Homo sapiens: one gene and its partner. The protein of the gene in region 1 interacts with the protein of each later gene in a pairwise test. Each region holds a gene or a part of one and is shown on either strand. Other genes may lie near its edges. The genes, in order: GALNT6 and SLC5A6.

Region 1 (3,813 bases):
GAGGAAGAACTGGAATTTGTGCCCAGGTCCCTTGCCATTGATGTCTAGTGCTTAACCAGTGAGCTTATGTGTCCAGAACTCTGCACAGAAAGTTCTGCAAGCATTCATCCTCTAGGGCATGGATCCACATGCCTGGGGGTGGAGCCTGGTGAACGCCCATGCCCAGCCCTGCCGGGAATGTCTTGTCATGAAATCTTAGGTTTCTGTTAAATTCTTTTTTATTAAATAGGAGTAGATTACAGATAACTTTTATTTATTTATTTTTAAAGACAGAATCTCTCTCTCGCCCATGCTGAAGAGCAATGGTGCGATTATAGCTCACTGCAGCCTTAACCTCCTGGGCTCCAGCAGTCCTCCTGCTTCAGCCTCCCAGGCAGCTAGGACTACAGGTGTGCACCACTACGCCTCGCTAATTTTTAAAATTTTTTATTGAGATGGGCTCTCAATACGTTGAGCAGACTGGTCTTGAACTCCTGGGCCCAAGCGATCCTCCCACCTCAGCCTCCCAAAGTGCTGGGATTACACCATGCTTGGCCAAGAAATATTTATAAAATACGTATAGGGTCTAAAGAATTACAGTCCACCAGCAGCCGCCATCCACTTTGAGAAAAAAACACTTTGAAGTCCCCCATTAACCATCTCTAATCCTGTACCGTTTTCTTCATCTTCAGAAACTGGTTATGTCATTTCTTTAGCTTTCTTTTTTTCGTGGGGAGACGGAGTCTTGCTCTGTTGCCCAGGCTGGAGTGCAGTGGCATGATCCTAGCCTACTGCAACCTCTGCCTCCCGGGTTCAAGTGACTCTCCTGCCTCAGCCTCCCAAGTAGCTGGGATTACAGGCATGCGCTACCACGCCCAGCTAATTTTTGTATTTTTAGTAGAGACAGGGTTTCACCATGTTGGCCAGGCTAGTCTTCTTTAGCTTTCTTTATAGCTTTATCACATATTTGTATTCAAGAACAAGATATTGTTTAATTTTAGCATGTTTTTACATTTTCTATAAGTGGAATCATACTGTATGTATCCTTTTGTCACTTGCTTTTTTCACCCAACAACACATCCACATTGTTGCATGGAGAAGTGGTTCATTCTTGGTCATCACTGTAGAGCACTGCACGGTATGGGTATTTTGCACTTTATTTATTCATTCTGCTAGTGGACTTAAAGGTTTTACCAGTTTGTTGCCATTTAAGTCAGTGTTGGCTTAAATGTTCTTGTACATACCTCTTGGTTTGCATCTACCAGAGTTTGTCTGGGATATAAAATGAGGAGTGGAATTGCTGGCTCAGGCTGTGTTCATTTCAAATTTTTCTTGATAATACCAAGTTGTTTCCCAAAGCCATAATGATTAAATCTCATGAGTTTAATGATTAAATCTCATGTAGTGTTTCAGTGTTCCAGTGACTCTAGATCCATGCATATTAGGATCTTAGGGCAGGAAAGAAACACTGCCTCCGGTCTCCTCATTTTATGGATGAAGGAAATGTAGATATGGGAAAGTTGTGGCCAATAAGGTGATGCCACCACTCAGCAACAGAGCCTGGCCTCGAACCCCAAGCACCCGACTCCCTCCTTACCCTGTGTTGGCTCACTTCTCTCTCTTGTCCCCTCCTTTCTCAGGCTGAGGCCCCAGCTTGTGGCCACCACAACGTATCAAGCTATCTCCAGGGTTGGGCTCAGGACTCAGAGCTGACGCAGCTGGGGTGCCCCTTGGTTCTGGAGGATGAGGCTCCTCCGCAGACGCCACATGCCCCTGCGCCTGGCCATGGTGGGCTGCGCCTTTGTGCTCTTCCTCTTCCTCCTGCATAGGGATGTGAGCAGCAGAGAGGAGGCCACAGAGAAGCCGTGGCTGAAGTCCCTGGTGAGCCGGAAGGATCACGTCCTGGACCTCATGCTGGAGGCCATGAACAACCTTAGAGATTCAATGCCCAAGCTCCAAATCAGGGCTCCAGAAGCCCAGCAGACTCTGTTCTCCATAAACCAGTCCTGCCTCCCTGGGTTCTATACCCCAGCTGAACTGAAGCCCTTCTGGGAACGGCCACCACAGGACCCCAATGCCCCTGGGGCAGATGGAAAAGCATTTCAGAAGAGCAAGTGGACCCCCCTGGAGACCCAGGAAAAGGAAGAAGGCTATAAGAAGCACTGTTTCAATGCCTTTGCCAGCGACCGGATCTCCCTGCAGAGGTCCCTGGGGCCAGACACCCGACCACCTGAGTAAGTAGCACCCAGAGTCCTTGTGGGGAGACCAGGGCTTTGCTAAAGGCATGGCTAGTATGGCCAGGGCCATAGATCAAGGGCCAGAGAAAGAGTTGAAGGGAATTTTATAATATGGGCAAGGATCTCCTCTATGCCTCACTTCTTTCCCAGAACAACTGTGCTGATCCCAGGGGTTGTGATTCAAGGGTATTATGGTCAGGCCAGAGGCCCAGGGAGACCTGTGAGAGTGAAATGCAATTATGAAAGTGAGATGATGTGGAAGAAGGAACTCAGCCTGGCACCAGGACCTGGCACGGGGTGACTGGGGAGACCTGATACCAAGCTGTGGTTTCAGTAGCTTTCTCCTCTACTGAGGCCTGCTCCAGAGACTGTGGGACTCTAATGCTGAGCTGTTTGGGGGGGGGGTGGGCATTTCTTAACAGCAACCCTGGTGGTTAGGAATATCCTCACACCTGGTTTCCTCCAGTGAAGGCCCACAAGGCCGGAATTGATTCCAACCTTTATCTGAAGTTGTTTATAGCCTCAATCTTGCACAATGAGATCTCACTTAGATCTTTGAGTGGCAGCCCCCTCCCTCTAACGCCCCCATGGCTGCATTCCCATGATCCTCAAGTTAAAGACAGTGTGTCTTCCCCACTTAGCCTTTGTCTTTTCCAGGTCAAGTGTTATACCCTATTTGGCCTTTTCTCAAATGGCAGCCCTCATCCCCAGATTTCGTGAGTCTTTAGGGCTGTGAACCTGAGGTTCTTGAGACTTGAGCCAAGTATGATAGCCCTAGAACAAGGGGCCACTTGAAGCTATCAGGAATTCCTCAGCAGAGAAGGGCACTGGGGCCAGGCACAGTGGCTCATGCCTATAATCCCAGCACTATGGAAGGCTGAGGTGGGTGGATCTCTTGAGGCCAGGAGTTCAAGACCAGCCTGGCCAACATGGTGAAAGCCTGTCTCTACTAAAAATACAAAAAAATTAGCCCGGCATGGTAGTGGGTGCCTGTAATCCCAGCTACTCAGAAGGCTGAAGGACAAGAATCGCTTGAACCTGGGAGGTGGAGGTTGCAGGGAGCTAAGATCATACCACTGCACTCCAGCCTGAGTGACAGAGCAAGACTCTGTCTCAAAAAAAACAGACAGAGAGAAGAGCACTGGGTGTGACAGCAGCCAGAGGAGGAAGACAGGGAATCTCTCTGGAGGGTCCCCAAGAAATCCTCTGACCAGCAGAGGAGGTCAAGGAAAGGGTGTGAGGTCACATGATTCCTTGAGATCCAGGATTCACACATTCCCACCCCAACCCTGAGATAGAGTGTCAAGAAGGTAGCAGCATGGCCAAGTGCCACAGAGTAGCTGGAGTGGATGAAGTTGGAAGAAAGGTTGCAGGAAATTGACTGTGATAGTGGTGTCAAATCACAGGGAGTTAATGAGAAAATGGATTAGAGAGGAACTGTACGCTGTAAAGGGAAGAGCCTTTTCTTCTCATTGAGTATGGAAATCATAGTCACTTTTCTCAGATGTCAAATTTGGCCTTTATTACCTACCCCTCTGGGACCTCTGGATTGGATTACATTTTATGCAGTTCACATATTACGGAGGAAGAGAGCCAG
Region 2 (3,495 bases), on another chromosome or scaffold:
TCTGTTGCTCAGGCTGGAGTGCAGTGGCGCGATCTCAGTTGACTGCAACCTCCACCTCCCACATTCAAGTGATTCTCCTGTCTCAGCCTCCTAAGTAGCTGAGGGACTACAGGCATGTGCCACCGTGTCTGGCTAATTTTTGTATTTGTAGTAGAGACGGGGTTTTACCATGTTGGCCAGGCTAGTCTGGAGCTCCTGACCTCAGGTGATCCTCCCGCCTCGGCCTCCCAAACTGCTGGAATTACAGGCATGAGCCACCGCTCGGCCACCTCTGGAGTTCTGATTGTTCCCACAGAAGAGACAGATCTGACAAGTGGGGCTCCAAGGTCATGGCTGGTGGCTATGCTTTATGGTGAGTCTGGGCATCTCTGAGTCTGTGTTCTTTTTCCTTTTCTTCTCACCCTGTCCTCCTAGGCAGCAATCAGCATCTTTGGCATGGTTGGGGGACCGCTGCTGGGACTCTTCTGCCTTGGAATGTTCTTTCCATGTGCTAACCCTCCTGTGAGTGATGCATCTGGATCCACAGTCATGTGTAGCAGGATGGACCTGGGGGTTGGCAGGGCTGTCACCAGGAGAGCTGAGGACTGCCGTGAGGGCTGGCAGGACTGGCCTTGTGACAGGCCTGCACTGTGTCTCGGCAGGGTGCTGTTGTGGGCCTGTTGGCTGGGCTCGTCATGGCCTTCTGGATTGGCATCGGGAGCATCGTGACCAGCATGGGCTCCAGCATGCCACCCTCTCCCTCTAATGGGTCCAGCTTCTCCCTGCCCACCAATCTAACCGTTGCCACTGTGACCACACTGATGCCCTTGACTACCTTCTCCAAGTAAGGCAGGGCTTGCTATCTTCTTGTTTTCTCAAAGCCCTCCTTTGAGGGCTTTCACAGGGGTCTTGCTAAGGGATGGGCCACCAGAGGCCCCAGGGAAATGTTGGGTATTGGGTCCCAAGACCCTGGGACCATGCGGGCAAGTAGAGATTGGTGCCCAAGGAATGCCCTGCCAACGAATTGCTAATTGTTCTCACCTCTGCTCTTCCCAGGCCCACAGGGCTGCAGCGGTTCTATTCCTTGTCTTACTTATGGTACAGTGCTCACAACTCCACCACAGTGATTGTGGTGGGCCTGATTGTCAGTCTACTCACTGGTAAGGGTGTGGGATTGCGGTGCAGATGAGCACCGAGGGGTTAACAGAGGGCCCTAAGGGACTCTAGGGAGAAAGGCTCCTGCCCTCTGAGCTCTTGGGTGTCCGTAGCTGTCAGGCTTTTCTGCTGGGATGTAGGAGGTGGGTGGGGGCTGGGGTCTCTGGGGGCCAAGGGAGGACATGGGGCCCGCTGCTGTGGATGGTTCCACCCAGAGACTCAGAAGCACATTTCCATTCAGGGAGAATGCGAGGCCGGTCCCTGAACCCTGCAACCATTTACCCAGTGTTGCCAAAGCTCCTGTCCCTCCTTCCGTTGTCCTGTCAGAAGCGGCTCCACTGCAGGAGCTACGGCCAGGTAGTACCTGCTGTCCAAGTGACCCCTCCCTGCCCTTCTCCACAGATGCCACTGACTCTTCAGGTTCCCTTCTACCCCTTTTCTCTCCCCCTGCCCCGGGTGCCTCTCTCAGGATCAGCTAAGCCTAGGCTGTCCCACACGGCTGTCTCAGGTTCTACCCACAGGACTGCACTGGCTTGGTGGGCAGAAGGATCTCAGGGCTCAGAGGAGCTCAGCCCCAGCCTGGGCCAGTCAGCTCCCCTCCCCAGCCCACCCTGTGCTCCCTGCTGTGCTATGCCCTCCCTCTTTTCCCCCTGCTCTCCCTCCCGAACCCAGCCTTGCTGGGCTCCCTTCTGGCGGGGACCTTTTTTGTGTGAATCCTGTCAAGCACCCGTCATCCGTCTTCACCAGTTCCACCCCTTTGGCTCTGTGTTTGCAGGACCACCTCGACACTGGCCTGTTTCCTGAGAAGCCGAGGAATGGTGTGCTGGGGGACAGCAGAGACAAGGAGGCCATGGCCCTGGATGGCACAGCCTATCAGGGGAGCAGCTCCACCTGCATCCTCCAGGAGACCTCCCTGTGATGTTGACTCAGGACCCCGCCTCTGTCCTCACTGTGCCAGGCCATAGCCAGAGGCCACCCTGTAGTACAGGGATGAGTCTTGGTGTGTTCTGCAGGGACAGGCCTGGATGATCTAGCTCATACCAAAGGACCTTGTTCTGAGAGGTTCTTGCCTGCAGGAGAAGCTGTCACATCTCAAGCATGTGAGGCACCGTTTTTCTCGTCGCTTGCCAATCTGTTTTTTAAAGGATCAGGCTCGTAGGGAGCAGGATCATGCCAGAAATAGGGATGGAAGTGCATCCTCTGGGAAAAAGATAATGGCTTCTGATTCAACATAGCCATAGTCCTTTGAAGTAAGTGGCTAGAAACAGCACTCTGGTTATAATTGCCCCAGGGCCTGATTCAGGACTGACTCTCCACCATAAAACTGGAAGCTGCTTCCCCTGTAGTCCCCATTTCAGTACCAGTTCTGCCAGCCACAGTGAGCCCCTATTATTACTTTCAGATTGTCTGTGACACTCAAGCCCCTCTCATTTTTATCTGTCTACCTCCATTCTGAAGAGGGAGGTTTTGGTGTCCCTGGTCCTCTGGGAATAGAAGATCCATTTGTCTTTGTGTAGAGCAAGCACGTTTTCCACCTCACTGTCTCCATCCTCCACCTCTGAGATGGACACTTAAGAGACGGGGCAAATGTGGATCCAAGAAACCAGGGCCATGACCGGGTCCACTGTGGAGCAGCCATCTATCTACCTGACTCCTGAGCCAGGCTGCCGTGGTGTCATTTCTGTCATCCGTGCTCTGTTTCCTTTTGGAGTTTCTTCTCCACATTATCTTTGTTCCTGGGGAATAAAAACTACCATTGGACCTAGAATTTGGGCTCCTGTACTGTCTTCACCTGCTCTTGTCCACCCTACTGCATCCTCTGGTGAGGATAAGGAGTCCTATCCTATGTACAGGTCACCTTCCTGTGCTGAGGAGGGGGGCTGTGGCTTCAAGTCCCTGCTGTCCCTGTGTCTGCAGGGGACAGTGTTGTGCTCACCATGGTAGAAGATGCACACCCTCTCCTAGGGCTTCTCATCCCCTGGGGCTTACTTAGTCTGTCCCTTCTCCGGCCCCACTTTCCCTTTGCCAGAACCTTTTGCTCTCAGATTTTTACTTTTGGAACTGGAGGAAGAATGTTCCCATCTGATTTTAGAAACGGAACATTCTAGCTGGACTTTTATGGTCTTGTGAAGAACACTGTGCTCACACCCTCCCACACCTGGCCTCTGCCCCTGCCTGGCCCTGTTCAGCTGCCCACATCAGCTCTGCACCAGCTCTCCGGGGTCTCTTAACAGAGACCGGGTCCCAGGCATATCTGAATTCAGCCTCAACTGAGGCCTTCTCCCAGGGCTTCTAGAGCACATTCCAGCTGTTCTCTCATACTCCATGTAGCTTAGGCCTGGGATGTTCTGTGTCCCTTTT

Evidence for each region.
Region 2: the proteins of GALNT6 (region 1) and SLC5A6 interact in a two-hybrid assay, tested with the Homo sapiens proteins (one large-scale study listed by BioGRID and IntAct).

Annotation. Positions count from the first base shown.
Region 1 is NC_000012.12:51,377,691-51,381,503, reverse strand, and holds part of GALNT6 (polypeptide N-acetylgalactosaminyltransferase 6), read left to right. Parts: intron 1-1,619; 5' UTR 1,620-1,722; coding exon 1,723-2,213; intron 2,214-3,813. UniProt on the Homo sapiens protein: Catalyzes the initial reaction in O-linked oligosaccharide biosynthesis, the transfer of an N-acetyl-D-galactosamine residue to a serine or threonine residue on the protein receptor. May participate in synthesis of oncofetal fibronectin.
Region 2 is NC_000002.12:27,198,994-27,202,488, reverse strand, and holds the end of SLC5A6 (sodium-dependent multivitamin transporter), read left to right. Parts: intron 1-414; coding exon 415-501; intron 502-641; coding exon 642-823; intron 824-1,035; coding exon 1,036-1,139; intron 1,140-1,375; coding exon 1,376-1,491; intron 1,492-1,909; coding exon 1,910-2,053; coding exon of another isoform or gene 2,054-2,099; 3' UTR 2,100-2,902; downstream 2,903-3,495. UniProt on the Homo sapiens protein: Sodium-dependent multivitamin transporter that mediates the electrogenic transport of pantothenate, biotin, lipoate and iodide.